7 linked regions of the Homo sapiens genome follow. The protein of the gene in region 5 interacts with the protein of the main gene of each other region in a biochemical or structural test. Each region holds a gene or a part of one and is shown on either strand. Other genes may lie near its edges.

Region 1 (4,475 bases), on a different chromosome or scaffold from region 5:
CACCTCCCAAAGTGTTAGGATTACAGGCGTGAGCCACTGCACCCAGCCAGGAGCCCATACTCTTAACCAGCCATGACCTTTTGTAACCTCCTGACCTACTGGTAAGGTGCATGTGGAGGACATCTAAAAACATTAAGTATCTATGTTCCTCATTCATTATTTGTTCCACAATGATGCTAAGAAGAAAAATAGAATAACCTCTGACTGTTTAAAGAGCAGCAGTTAGTGAGATGGCTGAGCAAATGAGACAAAGTGAGCCCACCTGGAGCCTCCCTGCAGCTCCTCTTTCCTGTCTTTCATTCCACGGCGATTGACCAGATGGATTCTGGCCATACATAAAAGCTCATCTCAGCCTCCTACAGCCAGTTCCATTTTCACGCCACCATAAAGCAGAAGCACTTGCAGGCAGGGAGAACCAAAGGTCAGGATGGCCACCTGAGTCTGCTTTCCAAGAGAAAGGATGGTTATGGCGGTCACTGCCTTCCTAGCTCTGCACATCCACAGATGGTCAGGGGCGGACAGAGCTGGCCTCTGCTCTGCAGCTCAGGCTGCGCTCTGCTCCCTTGATGTTGTGTCGTAGGATGTCGTCCCTGGCACTCCGGTCATGCTGGAGTGAAACGGCAGCTACCTTCATGTAATTCTGTTTCGTTGGTCTTTCTGCTCACCTTTGAGCCCTGGCTCAAAACTGTACTTTCAGGAAGTTGATAGCCTCTACTTTTGAAGCAGTCATTGATACCACATCCCCTTTGCCTTTGGCGTTCTGTGATTACTAAGTTAATCTACTGTCTCTCTTTCGTGGATGTTTGGGATATGCCCATACAAGGGTCTTCGCCTCATGGAACCTTGGAAGCCTTGCCTCCTACAGCCAGAGCGGGCGCTTGGTCCTCAGGGAATGCTGAGGCAGGACCATACTCAGGCACACTTAAAATCCTAGGGAGATTTTATCAAGTCTGAGATGCTGTCAGCCGTGAGATGCACCATTGTTTTGTGTCACTAAAAATGGAAGAACAGCCAGGCACGGTGGCTCATGCCTCTAATCCCAGCACTTTCGGAGGTTGAGGCGGGCGGATCACTGGAAGTCAGGAGTTCCATCCTGGCCAACACGGTGAAAACCCATGTCTACTAAAAATACAAAAATTAGCCGGGCATGGTGGCAGACGCCTGTAATCCTAGCTACTCAGAAGCTGAGGCAGGAAAATTGCTTGAACCTGGGAGGTGGAGGTTGCAGTGAGCCAAGATTGCACCGCTGTACTCTAGCCTGGGTGACAGCAAGACACTCCATTTCAAAAAACAACAGGAAGGGAAGAACAGGGCTACCAATTAAATTGTGACTTACCAGTTTTAAAGTTCCAATTTCATGGATTTTAAAATGTGCTTCATAAAACTCTGTACCTGTTTAGTATCCCTTGTCCAAACTTCTTGGGTTCTGAAGTGTCTCATATCTTGGGTTTTTTTGGATTTTGGAATATTGCCAAAATGCTCCAATGAGCATTTCCTTTGAGCTTCATTTTGACACTCAAAAAAAAGTTTCCGATTTTGGAGCATTTCAGATTTTCAGGTTAGGGATGCTTCACCTGTAGTTGGGTGTTCAAGGCATCAGATTTTACACTTTCAGGTTGCAATTCATTAATGAAGGTCGTTTGACTAATTGCCTTCAAAAATTGAATTTTTGACATTTCTCTAGAATTTTTGAAATTTTCTAGAATGGAATTTCTCTAGAAATAATATTCTCGCCAGGCGCGGTGGCTCACGCCTGTAACCTCAGCACTTTGGGAGACCAAGGCAGGTGGATCACGACGAGATCAGGAGTTTGAGACCAGCCCGGCCAATATGGTGAAACCCCATCTCTACTAAAAATACAAAAATTAGCCAGGCTTGGTGGCGTGCGCCTGTAGTCCCAGCTACATGGGAGGCTGAGGCAGAAAAATCACTTGAACCTGGGAGATGGAGGTTGCAGTGAACCAAGATTGTGCCACTGCACTCCAGCCTGGGCGACAGAGTGAGACTCTGTCTCAAAACCAAACAAACAAACAAAAAAGAAATAATATTCTCTGCGATAACCCTGTCAGTAAAATCTGTTGCCAGAAACTTATCTTGTTAAAGTAACTTCTTGATTATATGGAGAAATAAAAGTGAAAGCACGTAATACAGTAGTAGTAAAAGCAAAGCACCTGTGTATTATTAGGAATTCACTCACTAGCCATTTCTGAACTTTCAGTCCTTCAGCTGTGGAAGAGGATGAAGATGAAGATGGTCATACTGTGGTGGCCACAGCCCGAGGCATATTTAACAGCAATGGGGGCGTGCTGAGTTCCATAGAAACTGGTGTTAGTATAATTATCCCTCAAGGAGCCATTCCCGAAGGAGTTGAGCAGGAAATCTATTTCAAGGTCTGCCGGGACAACAGCATCCTTCCACCTTTAGATAAAGAGAAAGGTAAATGTGTTTATTTTTCTCCTTAGTTTTGATAACTTAAGAGTTGCCCTGTGTGCACTTCAGAGCTTATAGTGCTTGGCTAATAATGCAGCACCTCTCTATCTCCAGATGAGTGCTGTAGCGAGGGGTGCCCTGGGGACGGTGTTGCAAGCAAGCAGTGGGTGGCCTGAAGCAAGGCTGTGGTGACCACACTGCCTGCTTTTACTTTTGGTGTGAAATAAAAAATGATGGCATAGGACAGGCCACGGGATGTCTCACCTGCTGAGCAGCCTAGGCTGACCTAACCAAATTTGTCTTTGAATCAGTCAGCCTTTGCGTCTCTGGAGATGGGTTAGGTAACACCCACTCAGAAAGGCTTTGCTGTGCCTTCACCTGATTGGAGAACCTAAACCTCTTGACAGGTACTGTCTTATTCATCACCCCAGAACCTAGCACTAGTACATGCTCAGCAGAGTGCATGAAGGAGTCTCAGAGGAGATGACAGCATGTTTCTGAGCTTCTTAAGGAAACTTATTTTCATAATCCTCCTGGATCTACCAGGATATTATAACGAAGTGTGTTGTGATTTAGCATCTTTTAGCAGTGCTTTTACTTCCTAAACAAATTTAGTTCGCTTTTTTGTATTTTGCCGGAATACTGACATCTGATTCTGTACTCTGATTTTGGGGATATCCTGTTTTAAAAACCAGTAGGACTGACTGTGTTGGCCCTGCATGAATCTCTTTAACCACCTATGGAGCAAACAAAACATTTTGAAAATGGAAAATATATCACATTCGCAACAAGCACATTTGAATATGTTTTTTATTATAGACCCATATGATTGAATGCAGTAGCCACTGCCTGCACGTGGCTAGCTAGCACTTGAAGTGTGACAATTTGGGATTGAAAGATGCTGGAAATGTGAAATACACACCAAGTTCCAAAGATTTCATATATTGATTACATGTTGAAATAACAGTGTTTTCGTTATATTGAGTTAAAATATTAAAATATTGTAAGATTTGATATCACTTGTTTCTTTTTACTTTCTAACGTGGCTACTGGGAAATTTAAGATTCCATATGTGGCTGCTGTTACGTTTTTTTGTGGTCAGTGCGACTGTAGAGAACTAACTCCATTAGGCTTTCAAGCATATAATTAGAAGCAGGGTGAGGAAAACTGGGATTCTAGAAGAAAGACCACATCCATCCTCTCTGCCTATCCCCTTTTCCAACTCCAGGTGAAACACTGCTGAGTCCTTTGGTGATGTGTGGTCCCCATGGCCTCAAGTTCCTGAAGCCTGTGGAGCTGCGCTTACCACACTGTGCGTCCATGACTCCTGACGGTTGGTCTTTTGCTCTAAAATCATCCGACTCCTCGTCGGGTATGCTGTCTTCACTCTGTCCTTTGGGAGCTTTGGGGACTGTCGTTGATTAATACCTGGGCTGATGATGCTGCCCATGCTGTGTGTTAGCAAATCTCTATCTCTGTTCCTGTGGCCTTGTAGGCATCACCAGTGTTTTCACATTTATTTGTGGTGCATATATTGTAAATAAATATGGAAAGGTAGAAGACTTTCTGCCTTTTAAAAATTGATAATTTGGGCCGGGCGCCGTGGCTCATGCCTGTAATCGCAGCACTTTGGGAGGCTGAGGCAAGTGGATTACCTGAGGTCAGGAGTTCAAGACCAGCCTGACCAACATGGTGAAACCCCATCTCTACTAAAAATACAAAAATTAGCCAGGCGTGGTGGCACACACCTGTAATCCCAGCTACTCGGGAGGCTGAGGCAGGAGAATTGCTTGAGCCAGGGAGGCGGAGATTGCAGTGAGCCAAGATCGTGCCACTGCACTCCAGCCTGGGCAACAGAGCGAGACCGTCTCAAAAAAATTTTTTTTTGATAATATGGCCAAATATTGACTATTTCTTGGTGTTCAGAAAAATGATTTATTCTGTCAAATTTTTCAGGATGCAGTGGGAGATATTGTCCTGCACAAATAGGCATTTTTACCTTATTAAAATGACTTTGTTCCTTTATATAACTATTTCTATTTTTG
Region 2 (3,874 bases), on a different chromosome or scaffold from region 5:
AAATAAAGAATTTAACACAGTTACAAAATATAATGGCATTTGCTTCTTAGGTCCCCAGTGAGAAAGCACAGTTCCAGTCTCATAATTCCACCAAAGTTTACACAACAAAAATCCTTTCTCCCAGTTGAACAAGGTATGTACTTGCTTGAGGAAATACCCACTCTAACAAAAAGAGCTGTGTCCAAAACCCCAGGACACTTTTGGCTTTTGCTATGGTAAGTAAAGAGTTCCATTTTGTTTCCTCTCCAAGGACATATTTCAACAAATAGGAGGCTTCACTCTGGCTGGAAAAAGGAAAAGTAAGCCATTACATCTCTGTCTCTGTCTGTCTCTCACATACACACACCATAGACATTAATAATTCACAACCCCTCTCTTATGCTCATCCTAAGGACCTTGGTTGCTCTGTTACTCCCAGCTTTATTTGGGCCATTTTGCCCTTGGAAAGTTGTTAAGGTTTCTCATTGACAATTGAAAATCCCTACGACTTCACAACCGAAATTCAAAATTTAACTTTTGCCCTTCTTCCTAGAGCCTGCATTTCCCCCCACCCTCCAAAGCTGCCCGGCTGCCTGCTCAGTTACATGCCACACCCAGCATGGATGCTTAGCTGGTTGGCAGCTCTCTCTCCACCTCATTTGCAGTACATATGTGGCCTCTGCAAGCCCCATTTCACCCCTTTCCCAGATGAGATTTCAGCGGGTTTCACCTCAACTACTTTAGGTGTGTACTGTCATCATCCTCATTCAGAGTAATCCATTCTTCATTAGTTTGCTTTAGAAACAAATAAGGAAGTGTGTAGTCTCAGGCTGCTTGCAGTCAGCTTGTTTCCATGAGAGGATTCACCCATGTGGCAGAGCCAACATCTGGGGAGGAAAGCCCACAGATGTCCTGGTTGAACAAGGCCTGAAGTCCAACTTCCCTCGGTATATTTCAGTTATATGAGATAATCAAATCCCTTTATTATGTAAGCCACTTGGGGTAGGGTTTTCTGTTACTTGCAACTAAAAATATCCCAAGTAACATATCAAAATCTCTCTAACCCCAGAAAGTGACTTTCCTCACCCCAAGAAAGGACTTGCCTCCCATGGCAGGACTAGATGGGCTTCTCTCAAGAACTGAAATACAACTCTGGTCCTTTCCTGCTTTCCTTTCTTCTGTCAATGTTCAGTTTCCATTTCTGATGGGCTTTCTTGTCTTTTTTTGTTTTTGTTTTAAAAAACAACTCAGAATTAGTTTGAATTTTAAAATTTAATTTTAACTTAATTTTTATTTTACTTCAGAAATACATATTCACAAGTTAGGCAATTACACAGTTCGTAAAATAAGTCCCCACCCTATCCTCCCACCCCAGCTTCTCCATAGAGGTAACCCCTGCCCATTCTTTCTTCTGCTTCTACCTGTATTTACCTCCTATTGCTAAATAATATGGTTGTACAGCTATTCATCATTTTCCAGATTTAGTTATTATGCATTTTCTGTGATAGAATATGGCAACCTAGGTCTCTTATACCTCTCCCACACACGTACACATCTTCTCCCTTCATTTCCTGAAAAAAAGGTTATATCACAGTATTTCACTCCAGCAGCACCCCCTTATCTGTGGGAGTTGCATTCCAAGACCCTGAATACGAATAGCACCAAACCCAAATAGTACCAAACCCGATTGCTGTCAATTGGAACACATTTCTGTTCATGTCTTCCACCCACAAATTTAATACCTTTTCATCTTAACTAAGTGTTTATCACACACCGTGGGGTGTAATAAATAATTTTTGCAGCTTGTGGTGCAACAGCAAAACTAGCACAAATTTCTTTTGCCTTCTTCACAATTTTACAGATGGATTTGTTCTTACTGTAGATCTTAGCAACTTCAGCATGTGTTTTTTTTCTTTCCTTATTAAGTCAAGAACTTTCACATTTTCTGTTAGAGGAAGCACTTTACAGCTTCTCTTTGGTGTATCTTATTTGCCAGCATCACTACTCTTATGCTTTGGGGACATTAGTAAGTAAAATAAGAGTGACTTTAACACAAGCACTGTTATACCACAACAGTTGATCTGAGCAACTGGATGATGACTAAGTGACTCATGGGTGGGTAGCATATACATTGTGGATCCACTGGAGAAATCTCACACCATCCCACTTTGCCCTGCCCAGAACATGGGTGGAGGGTGATAGTGCGAGATTTCAACATGCTACTCAAAACAGCACATGTTTTAAAACTTAAGAATTATTTCTGGAATTTTCCATTTAATATTTTCAGACTGGCTGGCTGTAACTGAACTGCAGAAAGCAAAACCACAGATAATGGGAGACTATTATATTCACATTATCCTCTATGTAAATATTATTCACAGCTGAGCCATGTAGTGTACTGTGGTTATATTTCCTCTCTAATACAAAAGTTTCTTTTCCTCTAGCACTTAAAAACTGTATTGCGTTTTTACTTGCTTATTTTTCTATGTATTTACGACTAGTTTATCTCAATCTCTGCAAGAGAAATCTAAATCCCTCTCAATGTGTATGAATCAATTAATTTCTTCTTTTTCTGGGAGACATCTCTCCTAGAGTCCTTTAAGAGTCCTGCTCCAACATGAATGACTTGCTTTCTAAGCCTGCTACACACCAACATCCTGGGAATTCTCTTCACTTTCTCCTGCGTTGGATTCCTTGTTTCCCAGCTACTGTGTTTTCCTCTATCTTGGTTTAATCTCTTATTTTGGAGGATCTTTTATACTCAAAAGGTCTCTATCTACTCTCACATTTATTTGTTGGTGCCTTTCATGTTACGGCCTTTCCCTCAAATGTATTGTGTTCATTGACTACTTTTCATAATTAAGAATGAGGCTCTGACAGGTTGACCAAATGCTGTGAGTGGAAGGGATTTGTTGCATTGTGGGCTTCATCGTCAGGTGAGTAATAGGGCAGACACGCAGCTTTTGTGTTGAAGGATCCTCAACTATTTGTATCTGTCAGCCTTTTTTTCAGATTATGCAGTTTCCCCATAGGAGGATCCTCCAGGGTCCTGTCTTGACAGGGTTTGAGTCTGTCTGTCATCATTCTGGTAGCTAAATAAGGAAAGGGTACTGGGATTTTTGTTTAGTATGATGACTGACTTAGTCCCTCCCTACTTTCAGAATGCCATATCACCTCCACCCTTTACTGTACTATGAGTCAACAACTCTGAAGAGAAACTTTTGGTTTTCTTGTGAGAGTGAGGAGGGGGAGGAAATTGGTAGGAAAGGACAGCTTTTATTCAGACTTTCAACCAATCTTCCTGGAAGTTTACAAGGGTAGTGGTGGGGAGAGCACCCAGCCAACACTTCTGCACAGAGATTTTTAAAACTCTTACTAGCTGTGTAAACTTAAACAAGCTTCTTAATTTCTCTAAGCTTCAATTTCTTCAGCTGTAAAATGGAACTCAGAGCTTTGGTGTGAATGTCAAATGGGATCAACAAATGTAAAGTGCCTGGCATAATCTGCCCTGCAGGGAGACTGCATTCAATTGTTGTCAGTACAATGGTCATGGTGATAGTAGTTGGTAGTATCCTTAGCCTTGTTTCAGTGGACAGAAAGGAACCTCTCACACTATCTAGTGTTTTTCTACACTATCTCAAAAGGGAAGGCAGCATCTCCCTACTCATCTTCTGCGGAAATGTTAATAGAATTTCAGGAGTGCAACAACTTTTGCTATTTGCCCTCTACTCCATCTTTCCCTTGAGTGCTCAACCCTAATCCTCAGAGGCACCTCTTTTATTTTTGGCTTCCATCCCAATGAATTAATGGGAAGGAGAACTGCAGCAAGGTCAACTAACCTGCATCTCAAAGAAAATTTGAGATACATGTCCTTGATGATCCCCCTTCCATTCTA
Region 3 (4,475 bases), about 150 Mb from region 5:
GAAAACCCAGCACCCAGCTAACCTGTCATTCAATAGGGTAGCTAAAATGGAGGTATTTTAAGACACTCCTGAGGGGAGCGGGAGTGGCCGCCTTCGTGGTTGGTCACAGGACACGTAGCCTCTGCAGTCCAAAGGGACACAACCCAAAAAAGCGTGTGAGCCTGCGAACCGAAGGACCAGGGCAGACGCTGACTAAAGCAGCACATCGGCTGGGGAAGCCAGGCTTCGGGACCCCACACTAGAAGAAGCCACAGGAGAGATGACATCCTTCAGATCTGCCTCCAGCAAAGCAAGAATATGACGTCCTGGACAACTTCTCAGCCTTTGTCTCTAGCATCTGGCCACAAATCTGTGAAAACTGCTATGGAAATGGATAGAGAAGAAGAAAATTGTCAGTCCCACAGACTAGCGCTTTAGATGCTCTCGTGTGCAAGCCTGTGGTTTTGTTCTTGGGGAAAGCCATTCAAGTATTTCTGAGTATGATACGGCAGATCCCACCTTTGGAAACTAGTGAGACTAAAGATGTCATTATCTGGCCGGGCATGGTGGCTCATGCTTGTAATCCCGGCACTTTGGGAGGCTAAGGCAGGCGAATCACTTGAGGTCAGGATTCACCTTATCTCGTATTTCATATTTACAAATTTCATGAGTACAGGTTTTCTGTTCATTTTGTTTTCCTGTGTCTTTAAGCTCAAGCATTAGAAAACAATATAGCAAGACTGATTTCTTTGAGTAAGGTTATTACAGAACAAGCATTTGAATAATAAAGAATTTTTTTTTTTTTAACAGGGTCTAGCTCTGTCACCCAGGCTGGAGTGCAGTGTCACAATCTCTGCTCACTGCAATCTCTGCCTCCCAGGTTCAAGTGAATCTGGTGTCTCAGCCTCCTAAGCAGCCCAAGGTGGGTGGACCACCTGAGGTCAGGAGTTAGAGACCAGCCTGGCCAACATGGTGAAACCCCGTCTCTACTAAAAATATGTTAGCTGGGCATTGTGGTGCATGCCTGTAATCCCAGCTACTCAGGAGGCTGAGGCAGGAGAGTCACTTGAACCCAGGAGGCGGAGGTTGCAGTGAGCCAGGACCACACCACTGCACTCCAGCCTGGGGTCAGAGAAGGCTCCATCTAAAAAAAAAAAAAAAAAAAAAAAAAAAAAACATATAAAATGTTCATTATATGGCAAAATTTATAAGCAAATTCAAAAGTAAGTGATTAGAAGATATTTACAATATATTTAATAAACAAAGGGTTGATATCCAGAATAGGCAGGGTACCGTGGCTCACACCTGTAATCCCAGCACTTTGGAGACCAAGGTGGGCAGATCACTTGAGCCCAGGAGTTCAAGACCGGTCTGGGCCACATGACGAGACTCCACCTCTACAAAAAATACAGAAATTACTCGGGTGTGGCGGCACGCACCTATAGTCCCAGCTACTCAGGAGCTGAGGTGGGAGAATCATTTGAGCCCAGGAGGTCGAGGCTGTGGTGAGCCATGGTTGTGCCACAGCACTCCAGCCTGGGTGACAGAGGGAGACCTTGTCTCAAAAAAAAACAATCAATCAATCAATCAATCAATCCAGAATATATGAAGAACTATATAATTCAGTAAGAAAAATACAAGAGAGAAAGTTTGGGTAAAGAAAGCAATAGCAAATGGACAGAAGTTAAAACCTAGGTGGCCAAGAAACACAGGAAGATGCTCAAACTTAAATGTATTGGATGAAAATTAGAAATATTATAAATCATTCTTTTAATCTATCAAGTTGGCCAAAAATAAAAAATCTCATACTATGATGTGTTGGCAAGGATGTGGAGAAAGGAAAACACATTTTTTTTCTCGTGCAAGTATCTACTGGTTAATCTTTAAGGAAAATTTTAGCAGTGCTTACGAAAATGGAAGCTATGAAACAATTTAAATTTCTATCTGTAGCAGAATAAAATATATTCATCTAAAGGAAAGCTAAATAGCAGTTGAAAAAATAAATTACACCTCTCTCTATATACTAACTGGGACCGGCTCAAAAACAGTGTTGAATGAAAAAAAGCCAAATGCAGATTGTGCACTGTGTGACACCAATTCATGGTAAGCATAAGGAACCTAAGAATGTGTTCAACAAAAGCTATGCAAGACCTTTTTGGGAAAAAGCATAAAAGCTTTCTAAAGGACAATTTTAAAAAATCTATGAGTAAATGGAGAGAGAGACATATCCTGCTCAAATCTGTTAAGATTCAGTTTGGCCTCATGTAATAGGAAATCCAAAATAGCAGTGGTTTAAACGAGAGAATTTATTTCTCTCTTGTGTAAAAAGTCCAAAAGCTGGCAAACCTCTGCTTTGTACAACACTGAATGTTTCCTAAAGGAGCAGTCCCCAAGCTTTTTGGCACCAGGGACTGGTTTTGTGGAAGACAATTTTTCCATGGTGAGGGTTTGGGTGGGGGATGGTTTCAGGATGATTCAGGTGCATTACATTTATTGTATACTTTATTTCTGTTATTACATTTTAATATATAATGAAATAATTATACAACTCACCATCACGTAGAATCTGTGGGAGCCCTGAGCTTGTTTTCTTGCAACCAGGCATCCCATCTGGGGGTGATGGGAGACAATGACAGATCATCAGGCATTAGATTCTCATAAGGAACATGCAACCTAGATCCCTCGCATATGCAGTTCACAATAGGGTTCACACTCACGTGAGAATCTAATGCTGCTGCTGATCTGACAGGAGGCAGAGCTCAGGTGGTAGTGTGAGTGACGGTGAGAGGCTGTGAACAGAGGAAGCTTTGCTCACTCACCCACTGCTCACCTGCTGTGCAGCCCTCCTGCCACCAGTCTGTGGCCCAAGGGTTGAGGACCCCTGTCCTAGAAGACTTTCCTCTACTTCATCTCATTCAGTCCTTCTAACAACCTAGTAAGATAACAAGACAGATATCATCATCACCATTTTGCAGATGAGAAAACTGGAGTTTGGAGAAATCTGTAACTTGCCTGAAGTCACAGATTTGAGACCAAACCCAGTCTGATTGCTCCTTCAGTGTGCGTCAGGCTGTTCTGGTTGCCTGGAACCTCCCATGTCCTGAAGCCCAGGTGAACACTCACAAAATTCTTTTGTTTCACATAACCTGAAGGCCTTCGGTTAATATGCTAGAATAGGACATTGGGTACTAAGTTAACACAAATATAATTGGTTCTTTGGTCCTTCCAAAAATGTATCTATCTCAAGAAAAGCAAGGACTAGGGACCAAATCATTTTCCTGGGGCCCACTACAGGGCTGATATTGGTGAGGTCTCTCTTCTAATGTAACTAACTGCCTCTATCATTTACCACAGAAAATGTTTTTGTCCTTGTGTGGGCTGGATTTCTTCCAAGCTGTATTTTTATCACATAATATTTATTTCAATAATTTCAATAACGACTTTCAGTAATTTAGGATGAAATCGATACATCTGCTCAGTCTTTTGAGGTCTAATCAAAATTTCTGAGAAAATTTTTTTCACACTTGGGACTTTTTCTTTCAATGCCATTTTTTTTCCATAAGATGCCTCCATAGCTGGTGTACCTTTAGAAGTATATGTGTGAGAACGTAAATGGAGGGTTTACACTTGCATTTTTTTCAAAGCTCATACAAAGCTAGACAAAGCTATAATGTGAACATGCTAAACTCTGTAAGTAAGTAGTCCCCATGGTCACTAATGAGCACATAATCACTGATTCTCAGAACTTGCATATATCAGCCAGAATCTGTTAACAATTAGAAGCTGACAGCCTGGGCAACATGGCAAGACCCCATCTCTACCAAAAATATAAAAAAAAAAGCTGTGCATGGTGGTGTATGCCTGTGGTAGCAGCTACTCTGAAGGCTGAGGTGAGAGGATCGCTTGAGCCCAGTGAGGCGGAGGCTGCAGCGAGCCAAAACTGTACCACTGCACTCCAGCCTGGGTGACAGTGTGAGGCCGTCTCAACAACAACAAAAAAAGTTGAACCTGCTTTTCTGTGTTTACTGGCTGTTTGGAGTTCAGCTGTTGATTTCCTTACCCCAACTTTATTTTGTGTTATTCTTGTTGACTTGTAGCTCTTTAGTCTGGATGTTAACCATTTGTTGATTAAATACATAGAGAGTATCTTCCCCTTGTCAGTTTATTTTTATCTTACAGATTATGTTTGGAGGGGCGGCAGGAGGGCTAGAGTTGCACTGTTTTCTGTAGACCAGTTTACTTTTATGGATATATGCTTTTTGTGTTCTAAGAAATATTTCTCTATTCAATAATATATTATTTAGATATTTTTATCACTTAAAAGTTTTTAGTTTACTTAGGATTTTTGAATACTATGAAACTGCCAAGCTATTAATTATTCTGTGTTTATTCTCGTAGGTGGTGCGGCTGAACAAGCTGGAATAATAGAAGCTGGAGATGAAATTCTTGCTATTAATGGGAAACCTCTGGTTGGGCTCATGCACTTTGATGCCTGG
Region 4 (4,475 bases), on a different chromosome or scaffold from region 5:
ACATACCTATGGTCCCAGCTACTCAGGAGGCTGAGGTGGGTGGATCACTCGATGTTAAACCCAGGAGGTCAAGGCTGTGGTGAGCTGTGTGTAGGCCACTGCTCTCTAGCCTAGGCAACAGAGCAAGACGCTGCCTCCAAAAAGAAGTAAAACTCTATTATGATTCTATATAATTCGTTAGATATTGTGATGAAAGAATAAAATGCCTGAAGTTTTCAAATGTGTTAATGAATACCTCTGTTTTAATAACCTGTGTTTCCCATGAACTATGATGTCACTTGCTTGATTATTAAAGGATTAATTATTATAACATTTCAAAAAAGGATGATAAATCTCTGTTGAGGAACATTTCTGATGAGGAACTATGATTATATTTTAAATTTGTAATTAATATTTTATATGTAGAGTTTGGAATAAATTATACAATACTTTTAATATTTCTTGGTGTAATATGGCTACCTTGTTCCTGTCATTATCTTTTATATGAAAGAAAAAGAGAAATACCTTTTTTTCTCTTTGTTGTGAAAACCTGGTGAGAACTCTTTGTATGTTTTAACTGTATTGTTGTATTCGGGGGTGATAAAGTGAGCACCTATATGCTAGTAAAATTGGGTTATGTTAATGAAATTTTATGTCCCTGCCATCTGCCATCTCTGTCCTTTTGACATTTTATTAACTGGTTAAGATAATATTACTTTTTGTTGCCAAAAATGGTTAAGTTACTTTTATCAGTGAGTTTATTTCCAATGGATTAGTGAAGCTATAAATAGGAATTTGGAAGGTTTACTTGACTCCACTATTGTTTTTAAAAATTCTGTTCACTCTAGGCTATATAATCACTAGTGCTATCTCTCTGAATACTTATATAAACTATCAGAATGGAGGCAGATTTTCTATATTAAATTTTAAATAAAGTTTTAGCTTTTCATTCATCCTCTGTGCACTAAACAAAGTTGAATTTTTAATGAATCGACATAGAGTAAGAGTGAAGAATATAGAAGACCCAATAGTTTGCTGTTTTGGGAAAAAAGAACACAACATTTATAAATTAGCCGACTACAAAATTTAGAAAAAAAAGAAGAGTTATCTTTTGCCAAAAAAAAAACTTTGATTTATATCTAAAGAGGTCTCTTGTATCAAGATTTTTATTCTTCCAGTTTTGTTGCCGAGAAAGTGCAGACCTACTTTTGCTGTTGCTATCCAGTTCATCTTGACAATTTGTCTAGTGGAAACATTCACATGCTGTAGCTTCTAAAGTTAGAATGTGCACAGTATGATCTAAAGGGCAACATACTTTAAACAGAAGATTGTCCCTATTACTTTCTGCATTATCTCAAAAACATATTAAGTTGTCCAGTTACCAATGGAAAATAAATTCCTACATTTGATATTATTAGAAGAACTGATGGAACTGAATACATATATTGTTACACCCACACAAACACATAGACACAACAGAAATACGTATTGGCAATTTAAAAAATAACTTATTCTAGCTAGATGACAATATTATGTATGCTTCATTAATGTTACATTAGAAAAGAAAAAGAATTTTTTATATTGTCATACAACAATTTGGTTACAAACCTACTGTTTTTTTTAAAGAGGTAATTTTATAAAACTATGGTTGAAAATCAAGTGCATCTAGACACCTACATAGTACTGTTACTAATATATGTCAGATTAACCTTATTTAAACCCTGTAAGATAAAAAGTAAGGAGGTCAACCACAGAAATTCAAATGAAATTTAACTAGCTGCGGTATTATTATTCACTTTCATTTGCATATATTAGCAGTTAATGACTAGAGCTTGAAATTTGTCTCAATGATATAGATTTTTCAATGTGTCTTTTATACCAGGGTACATTGATTTTATGTATATATGCTATAGTTGTAGAATGGATCAATGTGACCACATTTGCAGTTAAGAAATGGGTTAGATGAGGTGCATATTTCTAGAATGTTGTGTGTTAAATAGCATGAAATATTTTAGAAAGAAGATTATTAGAAATAAATTGCTCTTGCTTAGTTGTTCAGTGATGCTATCGGCTTTTTGAGTGAATAGATATTTGTGTGACTTTAATATCTAGTTAAACAAGAAGTGTGTTTTTTCTTGTGCATATGGTGTGTGTTGTAAAAGATCCCTATGTAATCATTAAAGTTAGAAATATTTGATGCTTATCATTATTTTAGTTTCTCTGTCATTATGATATCAATCAACTTTAAGCAGTTTTTAGCTAATTGGAAATTGAGAAGAAATCTATCAATTTAAAATGTGCAGATGCATATTTTAAAACAGATTTTTAAAGTAAAGATAATAATTTATTTTCTGTTTTGTGATCAAAGATTTGTTCATTGAACAAATTTAATGGCTCAATTTTTGAATTTCAAATGGTCATGCTGATTTAAACCTGGTGCAACAAGTAAGTTTGTTAACAGTGTAAAGGGTACAAACTAGTTCATATATTATAAAATTATCCGTATGACTTATGCACAATCTGACACATTACTAAATGCTTTGAATTTACTGATATATAACTGAAATAAAAAATAAAAACAATAAGAGATTCTATGGTTTATATATAGTCAAGATATGCTCAAAAATATTTTCTGTAGCTAATTGCTTGATGCACACATACAAGTTTATGAATTGTTTTTAAAAAATAATAAAATTTTCCAAAGTTATTCACTTGAAGAGGAAGTAGACATGTTAAAGGTTTTGTTCTGTTGGTGGTTAAAAAGATTTTATAAACTCTAATAAATAATATATTAGTTATAATAGTTTTGCCACAGTTCAACAAAGGCTAGTAACACGTATTATTTTTTAATATTTGCATTCTATTGATAAAATTCAAGAATAATAAAAGAATAAAAAATTACTGTCATTAGGTAAACCTATGTCATATTTTTCACATAATATAAGGCAAGTTAATTTTTGGAGTCAGTCTCCACAAGCAACTATGTTAACCAGTTTCTAGCTATTTCCACATCCATATTTGTTAAACTATTTATGCTTGTAAATTTTAAAAAATCAGTTGTGATAGTTGAGTTACACTAGGTGTCAAAATATCACTGGAGACTGAAAAGGCAGAAGATATTGTTGAAGGCATTTTGAAACATCACAGAAATTCACATACACCAAGAATTCACCACAGTATACAGCTGAATAAAAGCATGCTGTTTTTCATTCTTTCAAGAATCAAAGGAATCACAGAAAATCCCTGATCCTATCGAAGGTTGGGCACAATTCTGGAAGAAGGCATGACCATTGCTGTAGTTATCATCATGTTAGGATGCCTAAGTGGTATGTGGGAGGGAGTTGAGAAACAAAGTTCACTGTTGCTTTTAGCATCGATTCCTCTATTCTTTCTTTCTTTCTTCTTCTTCTTCTTTTCCTTGTTTTTTCTGGGTTTTTTTTTTTGGAGACAGGATCTTGCTCTGTCACCTAGGCTGGAATGCAGTGGCATGATCACAGCTCACTGCAGCCTCTACCTCTGGGACTCAAGGTATCCTCCAGCCTAAGCCTCCCAAGTAGCTGGGACTACAGGTGCACCCCACCTCACCTGGCTAATTTTTTAAAAATTTTCTGTAGAGATGGGGTTTCACCATGCTGCCCAGGCTGGTCTTGAACTCCTGGGCTCAAGCGACCTGTCCACCTTGACCTCCTGAAATGCTGGGATTACAGGCGTGAGCCATAGTGCCCAGTCTCCTCTCTTATTTCTATGATACTGATAGCAGGCAATGCAACCATAACTCCAGAGTGGGAAAGGGTGGATAATCATTCATGGCTCTTTGTTTACACTTTCTTCTCCCAGCACTCCCCTAACCCCTGCAGCTCCAGGCCAATGTTGTTTGAAACAGTGCTGGAGGCACAGTGCTTCTCTCAACTTCTGGAGACCAGAGTGGGGCTGAAGGTCTGTGGAATCTTTGAGATGAATAGCTCAGAGCACAAAGCAGAGGATTTTTTTTAGTGTATATATTAAAATCTTTTTATTCTATTTTTTACCTTGAAATTCATAATGCAATGCAGCATAAAAGGCATTTTCCTTTTCTTTAGAAATAGTTCCCACATTGGAACATCACACTCTGGGGACTGTTGTGGGGTGGGGGGAGGGGGGAGGGATAGCATTAGGAGATATACCTAATGCTAAATGACGAGTTAATGGGTGCAGCACACCAGCATGGCACATGTATACATATGTAACTAACCTGCACATTGTGCACATGTACCCTAAAACTTAAAGTATAGTAATAATAATAATAATAAATAGAAATAGTTCCCACATTGAAGTGTCAGTGTAGCACTTTCCATTAAGTGCTGTTTATTACCAGAAGAAAGAGTTTCACAAATCAGAAACTTTTTAACTATCGCCAGACTACCAACTACACTTTCTTTTATTTCTGTAATGTTATACCTCTGCATTCTCTGTGGTCACTATCTGTACTGCTAAAATGAAAATCTTTGGTAGTTGTC
Region 5 (4,475 bases):
AGGTAGGCAGAAGCTGGAGGCACTAAGGGGGTGCCCTGGGCAGGAGGAACAGAAAGAGGGAGGCAGAGAGGGCAGCCGGCTGGAGAGGGCCGGGCTACGACTGCACGTTGAGCACGTGGGCAGAGCGCTGGTGGTGCCAGTCCCGGAGGCGGGTGTAGCGTGGGCTCTGCAGCTCCAGGACATACTTTTCCCTGAGGGGCAGAGAGAGAGGGAGGAAGAAGTGGAAGGAAGGAGAGATGGAAGGGAGGCAGGGAGGGAGGAGGGAAGGAAGGAGGGAGGGAAGAAATGAAAGAAGGAAGGAAGGAGGAAGGGAAGGAAGGAAGGAAGGAAGGAAGGAAGGAAGGAAGGAAGGAAGGAAGGAAGGGAGAATTGAGAGCCCCAGCTGGGAGCCTCAGGAGTAGACACAGGGCAGTAGCTGGAATGGAAGAGGCAGGAGGTGGGAGAGGGGCTGGTGCCCGTCCCTGTACCTTGATTTCTTCAGGTGCTCCTCATCCGGGTCTTGCACTGAGAGGGCAGAGGCAGGCATTGACCAAAAAAGACACAGGGTCAGGGATCACGCCTGGGCTGGGGGCGAGGAAAGTACCCCCTGCCCTGGGCTGGCACTTACTGAACTCGGTGCCTGTGAGGTGGGCAAGGATGCGGAAGGAACGCGACTGGCCTGTCCCCGGCCGCGGCCGCCAGTCCTCTGTGTTCTCCATCAGCCGCTGCTTGCTGGCATCTGGGACCAGCGGTCGGAGCGGCTGTCTGTGGGGAGGGTGTGGCTCAGAACCCCACACTGGGGGTGGGCGGTGGGGGCAGCCCCTCCCAGGATTTGGTGCATGTGGGTTTGGGTTACAGTGATGGGAGGGAGTGGGTAAGGGTGAGGCCAGGAGCCCTGCTGGGCGGGTAGGTGAGAGGACAGGAGGGCGAAGTGGAGAGGAGGGCAGCCAGGGTGGGGAGGGGCCGCCACCCAGAGTGCCAAAAGGAAGAAGAAAGGCACAGGCAGAGGGGGGCTCACTGACTTGTCAGGGGTCTGCACCTGTGAAGGAAATAAGACAGACAGACAGATAAAGGGACAAAGGGACAGACACAGGAGAGGAAGAAAGACGGGGAGGGGTCAGAACAGCCGGGGACAAGGCGGCACTGAGTGTCTGGGGCTCAGCTGGCCCGACACCACAACCCAACCCCCAGCCGCCAGCAGGGGGCGCGGCGTCATTCAGAGACCCCTCCCCAGGGCGGTGCCCTGCAAGGCGCCACAGCCTCGGGAGGGGCCCTGTGCCTGCAGCCCCACCCCGGCCGCCAGGGGGCGCTGCCGCACGGTTCCGCCGGGCTGGGGCGCAGCACAGACTGAGCAGCAGCGGGCAGCGGGCGTGGGGCCACAGTGGGCCTGATGGCGTGGGCGCGGGCGGGCAGGGGCCGACGTACCCATTCTGCTGCGGGGCGCTGTCAGCGGGCGGGGGCGCCCCAAAGGGCCGGGCCGTCTTGTTGAGGGAGACGCTGGGTGCAAAGGTGTACCGCGGAGGGTCCGCGGCGGGGGCGGAGGCCTGGGCAGAGACACAGCCGGGCAGGGCGGGCGGGCAGGGTAAGGTGGGGGCCTGGGTGGAAGTGGGGCGCCTGCAGCAGAGGACAGCGGCAGCTCCAGCCCCCCACCCCCACCCCACCCCCTACATCTATTTGGAGGCTACGGGGAGAGGACGACTCAGGTTTCAAGGGGCCCATTTGGGAGTGGCGATCTCAGTCCACGCAGGACCGAGGGCTGACCGAGTGCGGGCGAGCACGCAGCGCCGGCGGCGGGAGGCAGCAGGCGGACAGACAGGCGGACAGACAGGCGGACATGCGTGGTGCCAGGACCGTGCAGCAGCCCCTGGCTCAACTCCAGGGCCCTAGACCCGCCTTAGCTCCGGTTTCTGCCCTCCACTCCCGGCCAGGGATTGGGGTACCGAGAATGTGCCAGGAGGGCGAGCAGGCCTGGCCGTCCAAGCCCACACCGCCCACCGCCCGGATGTCCCGGCCAGCCTCGTACCTTCTGCGGTTTGCTCTGAACCGGCTGGGCCCTGGAGGAGAAGGAAAGCGTGACAGCGGGCCGGGCCCGCAGGGATCCCCACTGCCAGCGCGGGCGCACCCATCCATGTCCACCCGCATACCTGCTGAGGCCCAGGCTGAGGCGCTCCCCGCAGGCCCGGATCTTGTTCTGAGCTTCGATGTGTGTGAGGCTACCCGCATTCTCGCCATCGATGCTCAGCACCCAGTCACCCACGGCCACTCCGGCCTGCGCCGCTTTGCCCCCAGGAGTGAGCTGTGGAGAGAGAAGCAAAGTGACCGAGGCCCTGGACCCTGCAGACCCAAGCCAGGCTGACGGTGGTAACACTGCCCCACCCAAAGCTGTCCCACTTCCAGAACCCAGAGAGCTCTTCATTCAACATAGTTCTAGGCAGCTGCTGGACACTAAAGCAACCCAGGAGGTGGTGGCGCTCACCTGAGCTTCACAATTTCCCAGTCACACTGCTTATTTATTCACTGCCAGACCCTCTCCCTCAGGTGGTGCTCACCTGAGCTTCCCCAGTCACGATGCTTATCTATTCACCGCCACCACCCTCCCCCACAGTCCAGAAATTGCTATGATGTCCACAAACAGCCACGCTCAGGCTAAAGCCCAAGTGTTTCAGGAGGACCATTGCCTTTTGAGGCTCCTGCTGGCCTCCTGCCCAGGCCACTCCACCTACCAGATATGCCCTCTGGCCCATGCAGGGGGCAGCTTCCTCCCCGAAACCACCGGGGGCTCTTATGGACCTCTCACCCCCCAGCACCCTGTCGGGGGCCATCTATAGGGGTCTGCTGGGACCCTTTGAGAGCCAGGAACAGGCCCTGTTATCTCCCGGTTCCCTGTGAACACTGCCTGAATGGGACCTAAGTTGACAGCTGGGACTTCGTAGGCCATACATGGCTGTCACTCCCAAGCCCTCGACTGCCAATTTCCCCTGACCCCAATCCTTCAGGCTCTTGAGCTGGGAGTCCCTGGTTCCTGTGGCAATGAGTAGAGACAGTAGGCTGGGAGAAATGGCTGCCACCAGCATGAGCTGAGACCATCAGGAATGACTTTGAGGAAGCGGTGGGCCTCGGTAAAGGAGAATGGCGTGTGCTGCCTAGCGGGTGAGAGTTCACTTACGATGGCTTTGAATGCCAGGGGAAGGGACCAGGACTTGGCTTTGAAGGTAGAGGGGCTACTGGCAGTTTTAATGTCTGGGATTGGGTATCTCCCAGGCCCTGAGAGGGTGACCCTGATAAACCCCTTCCAGGCCTCTAGCCCAGCCCCAGCAACACAGGCAGGGCAGCTTGACTGGGTCCAAGCCTAAGGGACCACCCAGCCATCTGGCAAGAGGCCTGGCACTGCATCAAGTAGGCTTTTGTGAGGCAGTGCTGGAAGACAATTTCACTGGGTGGGGGGGATCTGGGGGGGTCCAGGCTGCCAGTGGCCCCAGGAGGCTCCTCAGGTGGGTCAGTGCACAGACTGAGCTGAGGCAGGGAGAGGGGAGGCAAGAGGTTTCAGAGAGATGTCAGAGGGCAGGGCAGCCAGGCACAGAGCTTGACAGCACTGGGAAAAGAAAGGCGAGCTGGGCTCAACATGACCTCTTGCTTGCGTAGGAGGTCAGAAGGCTAAGAGAGCTCGGCGGCCCCTTCCTCACTCGCTAGATAAGAAGACTTGCTTCAGTTTATTGAGCACCAACTATGCTACATATTGACACTGAATCTTCCAACAACCTTGTGGAGTAATCTGGGATTTTACCCATTTTGCACTTGCAAATGTACACAGAGAGGTTAAACAACTTGCCTCAAGTCACCCAGCTAGTAAGAGGCAGAGCCAGGAAGTGTCTCTGACCCTAAGGCTCCACCACTGTGGGCCACCTCTGCTGAGCATGGGGGCCCAACTGAGGGGTCAGCCCACCTGGAGACACCCTGAGCCACTCCCTCACCTTTAGTTCAATCCAACTAAATCAACCCCTTATACTGTGTATGGGGAAGTGACACCCCAGAGGGGAAGTGACTTACTCAAGGTCATGGTGAGTCAGTAGAAGGGAAACCTGGCCCAGCCACTCCCTGCCCACAGGGCTGGCTCCTGGGAGCTGTGGGCTGAGCCCGAGGTGGGGGTCTTGGGGTGCAGCTAGCTGGCTCCTGGAGAGGGGGTGGGGGGCGGGGACGGCTTCCCTTCCCAGAGTGAGGAGGGCAGGAAGCACAGAGGATGAGGGGTGTTCAGAGCGTGGGGAGGGCAGCAGGAGAGCAGAAGACAGCGCTGGGCGGGTGGCTGGAGAGAGGCAGGGAGGGGCTCAAGCCAGGGGCAGGGTAAGGCCAGAGGAACCAAGGAGGGAAAAAGCCAGGGGGCTGGACCCTGCATGAGGTGGGGGTGAGTCAGCCTGAGCAGCCCAGCCCCCCAGTCCCAGACGTTACCTCATCTCCCAGGCCTGGGCCCACAGCCAGCCCTTGCCCCTCCCACCTCCCTC
Region 6 (4,475 bases), on a different chromosome or scaffold from region 5:
GTAGTTCTACTCAATAAATTGAAGGAGCAGATATACCTTGCTTCTTGAGATTATTCTTGAATTATTACATTTTCTTAAACGTTTTCACATTTTAAATGTGGTAGGAGCACTGCATTTAAAGGAACTTTGACATAAGGTTGTTTAAAAAACTTCTATAACTTAAAGCTTACTTTATAAAGGGATTGACATTTATCCCTCTAATGTTAGGCATTTTGGATGTATTATTTAATCATACCCATTTTACAGAGAACACTGAGATTCAGAGGGGGTGATCAGTAATTCGCCTAAGATCACACAGATTCCAACGCGGTTCCATGGTTTTAAAGTCTGTTCATTTCATGCTGCATTCTGCTGCTAATTCAAGTTGTGAAAATACTGTGTTGGATTTTCTTAAAGACACGTCTTCATTTTCAGAGTTTCTATACTGCAAATTTTAGTTGTTTGACTTTCTGGTTAAATTTCTTATTTCTTCAGTAGAGGTTCCATATACTATTCATTCTTTCATCTGTTTCTTTTTTATTTTTGTCTTTCTCTTTAATGAAACATCAGCATTTGTTACCAAACTAACTGGTAAATCTAGCAATGGAAATATAGACTCTTGGCCATCTGTCCAAAATATAATTTGTTTTGGAACTTTCTCTACTTCTTTTACTCTCCAAATTTTTTCTTCCATTTCCCTTGCCCCAACAGACAGGATAGTTGATTAATTACCCCTAACTTGCCAAACCAGAAGTAATAAGGTTTCAGAGGTAGATGTTTGTTGGAAGTGGGGTGGAGTGGTTTCCAAAGGATAGTTATTCCTTTATCCTGTGATAAAAATACGGAGATTGTTCTCTCTGATTCTGAAAACCGTGTAGTGAGCTGCAGCCGCTGAGTCTGTGAGCTTCTAGCTGTTTGCCAGCACTGTACACCTTAAATAATCAAGAGACTGAGTTAACTATTGCAGAGCAGGTACCGGACCCCAGCCAACAAGCTGATGGGATGTGCTGTTCTCACATTTTTTGGTTTTATTTTTTAGTTGCAACTGACAGTGAAGATTCTAGAAGCACCAAATATGGCTCTGGATTTATGCTGTGGGATTTAAGATGCTACAGAACTTGCTCTCCTTCCTTTCTGTCCTGGAGCCACTATGGTATTGGTTGTAGAGCCCAAGTCAGTATAGAGTCTCTGACTTCTACCCTGGGAAAATTTCATTTCCGAAGCTAGTTTGTTTTGAAGTTAATGTTTATTTCCAACATTGAGATTTAATAATTTTGTGTTACTTTTCTTTATTAATTAGTTTTTATACAGTAAATTATAAAAGTAATGATGCACGTAGTAAATTTTATTTTCTTTTTTTGAGATGGAGTCTCGCTCTGTCTCCCAGGCTGGAGTGCAGTGGCACGATCTTGGCTCACTACAACCTCCGCCTCCTGGGTTCAAGTGATTCTCTTGCCTCAGCCTCCCAACAAGCTGGGATTACAAGCATGCACCACCGCGCCTGGCTAATTTGTGTGTGCGTGTGTGTGTGTGTGTGTGTGTGTGTTTTGAGACGGAGTCTCACTCTGTCGCCCAGGCTGGAGTGCAATGGCGCGATCTCGGCTTACTGCAAGCTCCGCCTCCCAGGTTCACGCCATTCTCCTGCCTCAGCCTCCCGAGTAGCTGGGACTACAGACGCCCGGCTAATTTTTTTTTTTTTTTTTGTATTTCTAGTAGAGATGGGGTTTCACCATGTAAGCCAGGATGGTCTTGATCTCCTGACCTCGTGATCCACCCGCCTTGGCCTCCCAAAGTGCTGGGATTACAGGCGTGAGCCACCGCGTCCAGCCTAGTTTTTTATTTTTAGTAGAGACGGGGTTTCACCAGGCTGGTCTCGAACTCCTGACGTCAGGTGATCCACCTGCCTTGGTCTCCCAAAGTGCTGGGATTACAGGCGTGAGCCACTGTGCCCAGCCATACAATTTAAAATATAGGTGATACAAAGATAAGTAGTGAGTCTGTCTCAATTCTCCTACCATCCATATCCCCATTCTCTAGAGGTAACCATTGTTCAGTTTCTTCTCCATCTTTCTGGAAGCTTTTTGTTTAAAAGTGAGATATTTGTATACTATGCTGAAATATTGATTTTTCATGAATAATAGTATATACTTGATGATCTTGTCATATCCATCAATGTATCTGTCTGTCTCTATCTCCTCTTTAGCTGCTGCCCAGTATTCTGTCATATGGATTGTTACTTTGGCTTTGGATTGAGTGCAAGCCAATTGTAATTTTACATTGCTTGAAATGCTGAGCTGGAATTTGGGTGAGAGGTATGGAATGGCAGTGAAGATTTGGGAGTCATCTGTGTGGAAGTAAAACTGAGTGAACAAGTTCTTGGGGGTTGACTGCTCTAGGGCTCGTGGTTTGGAGTATAACTCATAGAGTTAGAAGAATCAGGATAATGGGCTGCACAGAAGTTTAAAAGAGGGGGGAGGATCAATAATGTAAAATGCCAATATACTCTGAGGACTAAGAACACATGTGGCTATAACAGAGAAACAATTTAAAGCACTTATCAAAATGAATATTATGTTTAATAGTCAATTCATGATGTGTCTGAAAAGCTAGGTCTGGCTTCTTTTCTGTGGATACTAGTAATTTTATACTATCTCTCTGTAAATCTATCTCAGAACCAACATATTTAGGGTAAAAACAAAGTAGATTTCTTTTTCACTCTAATTGTGTTTTGCAGATTTCTGATGACTGGCTTTTAGGTAAAATCATTTGGTTTTCCTAAGATTATGTCCTTTTCATTCCCGAGCTTGTGCATGACTGTCAATTAAATGGAAGCCTTTCATGAAGTGACAAAGTAAGTTTTAGATACTTTACATTTACTTTAAGTTCTTGGTATGTGTCAAACCACTGTTATTGTCTTATATCTTTCTACTATAGGAAACTGAATTCTTTCTAGCCTCAAGGATTTTTGTCCACGTTGGATGAATGTAGTACTGTCCTCCTCTTTCACATTTCTTCTCCCATCACCTCCTAACTAAATTTGTTCATTGGCTATTTTTGGTTGTCCACATCCATTCACAATAAGAAACGATTGCTTCGTTGTACATAAGCCAGTTTTTTGGTATCTAAGTGCGTGCTATTTCACTTCAGCTTCTTGTATTCTATTTATTACTGGGCTGTTGTACATTGTTTTTTCTCCCAATCTTTGTGATTTCTTTTAATATACTTTCTTTCCTTTTTGCTTTGTAATCATTGTTTTGAGTATTTGAATCATTTGCAGGTAAGAATGTGGATTGTTCTGTCTCTCATGTAGTTTAATAATATCCAAAATATACTATGTTCAGTCTGTATTTCAGGCTTTTAACACTTAAGTTAGAGTATTTTGGTATATTTAAATCTAGGATAGAAGTACACTGTATTACCATTCAACTACATGCAGATTTTAATGTTTTCTTAAATTAAAGGATGATGATATTCATTCAGTTACAGAGGTCTCTCTCTCTAGTCCTTCCATGGTGTGCAGATTACCATTATACTACTGCTATTTCATAGATTCTAATTTGTGTTTTTAGAAAACATCATCAATTCTTGGCCTTCTTTCTTACCCTTGGTATGTGATTTCCCCTAAAGGTATGGAATGCGGTTGCTCTGTGGCTTGTTAGGCAGCCCCCTTCTGATCTGGTAACCTTTGGGCACAGTGTGGCTATTTTCTCCTTATTTATAAAAGGAATGATAGCTGCTTCACAAACCATTTGTGTGGATTAGTGAATTGTAAAGTGCAGCATAAGTATTTTTTATTTCTAGAATGTCTCTGAGATACTCAAATTACTTTTGGCAGTTATGTACGTAAGTTTCAACAATTTCCAAATGTGCACATTCTCAGTGCTAAACACAGGCTCTATTACATAAATAATATGGTGAAATGAACATTCTTTTCTACCATGTGTGTAAAATTGTTAGTGGTGCTAACTTTTATTCATTGTTCATTTATGTATTCATTTCTAGCTATGAGGTCCTGGGCAAGTTAGTTAGCCTCTCTGACCCTCAGTTTCTTTATCTGTAAAATGTGGTTAATGGTATATACTTTGTAAGGTTGTTGTGAGGATTGAATAGCATGATCTATGTGAAATGTCTAAAGGTTGTTATTTTAATTGCCATTGTCATTATTATTATTTTTTAAATTTTATTATTATTATACTTTAAGTTTTAGGGTACATGTGCACAACGTGCAGGTTTGTTACAAATGTATACATGTGCCATGTTGGTGTGCTGCACCCATTAACTCGTCATTTAGCATTAGGTATTGCTATTCACCAAACACTTGAGTTCTCTGGCCTCAGGGAGCTCAAATGAGTTATTCACACACTCATGCACATATCCTCTGCGTAACTTGGTAACCAACAGACACACATAGTAAAATATTTGGTCAGCAGTTGTTGAATGAGTGAGTACATTAACTGAGAAATCCAGAGACTGTGTGACCACCTAGTAGGAGAAGG
Region 7 (4,475 bases), on a different chromosome or scaffold from region 5:
TGTCAACCACCGCACACAGCCAATTTATTTTAATTTAATTTTTGAGAGGTATCATCTCACTCTGTTGTCTAGGCTGGAGTGCAGTGGTGTGATTATAACTTACTGCAGCTTCCACCTCCTGGGCTCAAGTGATCCTCCCTCTTTAGCCTCCCGAGTAGCTGGGACCACAAGTATGTGCCTACATGCTTGGCTAATCTGTTTTTTTATAATCCCTCATCTACTTAAAGAGAACTGGCTAATTAAATTTTTTTTTTCTATAGAGATGGAGTCTTGCTATATTGCCCAGGCTGATCTCAAACTTTTGGGTTCAAGTGATCCTTCCACCACGGCCTCCCAAGGTGCTGGGATTACAGGTGTGAGCCACCTCTCTTGGCCAGCATCTTCATTTTCCATGTAAGGAAACTGAGGCTGGTAGAGGTGACGGCGTCACGGGGTGAAAGTGAAGGGTCAGGATTCAAACCCAAAGAGAGCTGTTCTAATAAATATCGTAAAGATCAAAGGAATTAATATAAAAGCTTAAAACCACACCACACATTCAGTAATTGCTAGTTACTATTATTATAATACTACACTCCCTTCCATACTGTGCGCTGAGAGATCCCACACAGAACATTCTGACTCCACAAAAAAAGTCCTGGCACGTCAGCTTGGCCCTGAATTTTGACTCCCTCAGTTCTCTCTCCAAACTTTTGTCTTTGTCCACAAACCAGCTGATACTAATCAAGGCACATCTGCACACAGGAGTGTGTGGCCATTGGAAATGAGCGTGCAAATGGACACGTTGGAAACGTGTGCAAATGATCACGTTGGAAAGGAGCATGCAAATAGACATGGTGGAAACGAGCGTGCAAATGCACACGTTGGAAACGAGTGTGCAAATGGGCACATTGGAAATGAGCATGCAAATGGTCATGTTGGAAATGAGCATGCAAATGGTCACGTTTCTGGAAGGCAGGTTGTTAAGTGTGTCCAAAGCCCATCCTTCTACCCAATGATCTCACATGTAGGAATTTATCTTACACACATCCTGACAAGACACATGCACGATGATGTATGAGTGAGGTGGTTCACCTGTGTATTATTTCTAACACTAAGACGTTGGCAGCAATATAAATATCTGACAGTGGGGGCTAAATAATTGCAGTACATCCATGTGGGAGATATTTGTAGTTTCTTGGCTATCTAGGCCAAAAACAAAGAGGAAAATCTCAGCCAGGCGCGGTGGCTCACACCTGTAATCCCAGCACTTTGGGAGGCCAAGGGGGGCGGATCATCTGAGGTCAGGTGTTTGAGACCAGCCTGGCCAACATGGTGAAACCCCGTCTCTACTAAAAATACAAAAATTAGCCAGACGTGGTGGTGGGTGCCTTTATTCATCCCAGCTACTCGGGAGGCTGAGGCAGGAGAATCGCTTGAACCCAGGAGTCGGAGGTTGCAGTGAGTCGAGATCTTGCCATTGTACTCCAGCCTAGGCAACAAGAGCAAAAACTCCATCTCAAAAAAAAAAAAAAAAAAAAGAAAAAAGAAAATCCCAAAGTAGGTGGGAGGCAAGATCCTGGCAGGGCTGGGGGCAATGGTTCACACCTGTAATCCCAGTGCTTAGGGAGATCGAGGCAGGAGGATTGTTTGAGACCAGGAATTCAAGACCATCCTGGGCAACATAGCATGACCCCATTTCTACAAACAAATTTTTTTTAAATTAGCCAGATGTGGTGGTGCATGCCTGTAGTCTCAGCTACTTGTGAGGCTGAAGTGAGAGGATCACTTGAGCTCAGGAAGTTGAGGCTGCAGTGAGCCAAGATTGTGCCACTGCACTATACAGTCTGGGCAACAGATCAAGACCCCATTTCAATAAATAAATAAGAAAATAAAACCATGAAATAGGGAGTGATGGCTAAGGAGTGCAGAATTTCTTGTTAGAGTGATGAAATTGTTTGAAAATGGATGGTAGTGATGGGTGTTACAATCCTGTGAATATATTAAAAACCATCGAATTGCCCACATGTCATACAGTTTAGCCACTGAAAGCACATACTCCATGAGACCCTTCCCTTGTTGGCTGAGGGTCTGGTTGTCTCTGGGCACTGACAGCTGGAGCTGACCCTGAAGCAAGGCTGGGCGGCTGAGTGAGTCCATGAGTCGTTCACGTCTCCCTCTCTCGAGGACTTGTGGGTGCAACTTCAGCCTGAACTGGGGCTGTCAGGCCCCGCCTCTCTCACCCTCATCCACCTCCAAACTTCTCAACAGACTCCGCATCCTTCCCTTCCATCCTCTGCTCTCAGAGGTTGAAGAGGCCCACTTCCGGCCGGGTGCGGTGGCTCACGGCTGTCATCCCAGCACTTTGGGAGGCGAAGGTGGGTGGATCATCTGAAGTTAGGAGTTCGAGACCAGCCTGGCCAACATGGTGAAACCCCATCTCTACTACAAATACAAAAATTAGCTGAGCATCTGATGGCAAACGCCTGTAATCCCAGTTACTCGGGAGGCTGAGGCAGGAGAATTGCTTGAGCCTGGGAGGCGGAGGTTGCAGTGAGCCAAGATCGTGCCACTGCACTCCAGCCTGGTGACAGAGCGAGGCTCTGTCTCAAAAAAAAAAAAAGCCCCCTTTGTAGTCAAGGCCAAATCACCAGGCCACAGACACCTCACCATTCCCAGTCTCCACCCCTTTCTTCCTGCCACCTACTTGTCATTCAGCTTTCAGCTCAAAGATCATCTCATCAGGCAGCCTTTCCTGGCCACCCTGTCAAAGTGGGTTGCGTCACTCTCACCTCACCCTATTTATGCCTCCACTTTATTCATCATCATCTTTTTTTTTCTGGAGTCAGGGTCTTGCTCTGTTGCCCAGGCTGGAGTGCAGTGGTGCAATCATAGCTCCCTGTGGCCTTGAACTCCTGTGTTCAAGCGATCCTCCCACCTCTGCCTTCCGAGTAGCCAGGATCACAGGTGCACGCCACTGTGCTTGGCTAATTTAATTTAATTTTATTATTATTATTATTATTTGAGAGAAAGTCTCACTCTGTCGCTCACTCTGTCGCTCTGTGCAGTGGTGGGATCTTGGCTCACTGCAACCTCCACCTCCTGAGTTCAAGCAGTTCTCCTGACTCAGCCTCCCAAGTAGCTGGGATTATAGGCAAATGCCACCACGCCCGGCTCATTTTGGTAATTTTTGTAGAGATGGGGTTTCACCATGTTGGCCAGGCTGGTCTCAAACTCCTGACCTCAGGTGATCCTCCCACCTCGGCCTCCCAAAGTGTTGGAATTACACGTCTGAGCCATCGTGCCTGGCCTGTCATGATCTTTAATAGCTTGTGTATTGATTAATCCACTTGCTTACTGTCTCTTTCCCTGCAGTAATGTTAGGTGTGTGAAGTCAGGCTCCTTGCCTGTGTTGTTCATGGCTGTTTCCCCTGTCCTGCACATCATAGGCCCATGATCAATGACTGGTAAATGCATGGTTTTCTTTTTCTTTTTTCTTTCTGTTTTTTTTGAGATGGAGTGTCACTCTTATTGCCCAGGCTGGAGTGCAATGGCATGATCTCGGCTCATTGCAACCTCTGCCTCCCGGGTTCAAGCGACGCTCCTGCCTCACCCTCCTGAGTAGCTGGGATTACAGGCACCCGCCACCACAACCAGCTAATGTTTTGTGTTTTTAGTAGAGACAGGGTTTCTCCATGTTGGCCAGGCAGTCTCGAGCTCCTGACCTCAGGTGATCCACCCGCCTCAGCCTCCCAATGTGCTGGGTTTACAGGTGTGAGCCACTGTGCCCGGCCTGCATGGTTTTCAGTATATCTACTTCTCCATTCCCTGCAGCTTATATAAATGTTCAAGTCTCTCTCAGGCTATAAATAAATAAATAACAAGCTGGGCACAGCAGCTCATGCCTATAATCCCAGAGCTTTGGGAGGACAAGGCGGGAGGATCACTTGAGGCCAGGAGTTGGAGACCAGCCTGGGCAACATAACCAGACCCTGTCTCTAAAAAATGAAAGACAGCCGGGCGCGGTGGCTCATGCCTGTAATCCCAGCACTTTGGGAGGCCGAGGCAGGCGGATCACAAGGTCAGGAGATCGAGACCATCCCAACTGACACGGTGAAACCCCGTCTCTACTAAAAATAGAAAAAAAATTAGCCAGGTGGGCGTGATGGCGGGCGCCTGTAGTCCCAGCTACTCGGGAGGCTGAGGCAGGAGAATGGTGTGAACCCGGGAGGCGGAGCTTGCAGTAAGCCGAGATCGCGCCACTGCACTCCAGCCTGGGTGACAGAGACAGACTCCATCTCAAAAGAAAAAAAAGAAAGAAAAGAAAAAGTAAAAAGTTAGCCAGATATGGTGGTGCACGCTTGTATTCCCAGCTACCAGATACTTGGGAGGCCGAGGTAGGAGGATCTCTTGTGCCCGGGAAATCAAGGCTGCAGTAAGCCATGATCACACCACTGAGCTCCAGCCTGGGTGACAGATCAAGACCCTGTCTCCATAAA

The links.
Region 1: the proteins of PDLIM7 (region 5) and TJP1 interact in a test that uses a peptide from one of them, tested with the Homo sapiens proteins (one large-scale study listed by IntAct).
Region 2: the proteins of PDLIM7 (region 5) and CYSLTR2 interact in a test that uses a peptide from one of them, tested with the Homo sapiens proteins (one large-scale study listed by IntAct).
Region 3: the proteins of PDLIM7 (region 5) and PDZD2 interact in a test that uses a peptide from one of them, tested with the Homo sapiens proteins (one large-scale study listed by IntAct).
Region 4: the proteins of PDLIM7 (region 5) and PDZRN4 interact in a test that uses a peptide from one of them, tested with the Homo sapiens proteins (one large-scale study listed by IntAct).
Region 6: the proteins of PDLIM7 (region 5) and CASK interact in a test that uses a peptide from one of them, tested with the Homo sapiens proteins (one large-scale study listed by IntAct).
Region 7: the proteins of PDLIM7 (region 5) and GRID2IP interact in a test that uses a peptide from one of them, tested with the Homo sapiens proteins (one large-scale study listed by IntAct).

Annotation. Positions count from the first base shown.
Region 1 is NC_000015.10:29,703,489-29,707,963, reverse strand, and holds part of TJP1 (tight junction protein 1), read left to right. Parts: intron 1-2,218; coding exon 2,219-2,436; intron 2,437-3,658; coding exon 3,659-3,802; intron 3,803-4,475. UniProt on the Homo sapiens protein: TJP1, TJP2, and TJP3 are closely related scaffolding proteins that link tight junction (TJ) transmembrane proteins such as claudins, junctional adhesion molecules, and occludin to the actin cytoskeleton.
Region 2 is NC_000013.11:48,708,589-48,712,462, reverse strand, and holds the end of CYSLTR2 (cysteinyl leukotriene receptor 2), read right to left. Parts: 3' UTR 1,237-3,874; downstream 1-1,236. UniProt on the Homo sapiens protein: Receptor for cysteinyl leukotrienes. The response is mediated via a G-protein that activates a phosphatidylinositol-calcium second messenger system.
Region 3 is NC_000005.10:32,103,592-32,108,066, forward strand, and holds part of PDZD2 (PDZ domain-containing protein 2), read left to right. Parts: exon of another isoform or gene 1-1,124; intron 1,125-2,532; exon of another isoform or gene 2,533-2,589; intron 2,590-2,696; exon of another isoform or gene 2,697-4,377; coding exon 4,378-4,475.
Region 4 is NC_000012.12:41,194,510-41,198,984, forward strand, and holds part of PDZRN4 (PDZ domain-containing RING finger protein 4), read left to right. Parts: intron 1-4,475.
Region 5 is NC_000005.10:177,490,403-177,494,877, forward strand, and holds part of PDLIM7 (PDZ and LIM domain protein 7), read right to left. Parts: intron 2,276-4,475; coding exon 2,124-2,275; intron 2,034-2,123; coding exon 2,003-2,033; intron 1,524-2,002; coding exon 1,405-1,523; intron 1,019-1,404; coding exon of another isoform or gene 1,002-1,018; intron 745-1,001; coding exon 608-744; intron 505-607; coding exon 468-504; intron 192-467; coding exon of another isoform or gene 95-191; exon of another isoform or gene 1-94. UniProt on the Homo sapiens protein: May function as a scaffold on which the coordinated assembly of proteins can occur. May play a role as an adapter that, via its PDZ domain, localizes LIM-binding proteins to actin filaments of both skeletal muscle and nonmuscle tissues.
Region 6 is NC_000023.11:41,913,041-41,917,515, reverse strand, and holds part of CASK (peripheral plasma membrane protein CASK), read left to right. Parts: intron 1-4,475. UniProt on the Homo sapiens protein: Multidomain scaffolding Mg(2+)-independent protein kinase that catalyzes the phosphotransfer from ATP to proteins such as NRXN1, and plays a role in synaptic transmembrane protein anchoring and ion channel trafficking.
Region 7 is NC_000007.14:6,540,810-6,545,284, forward strand, and holds part of GRID2IP (delphilin), read right to left. Parts: intron 1-4,475.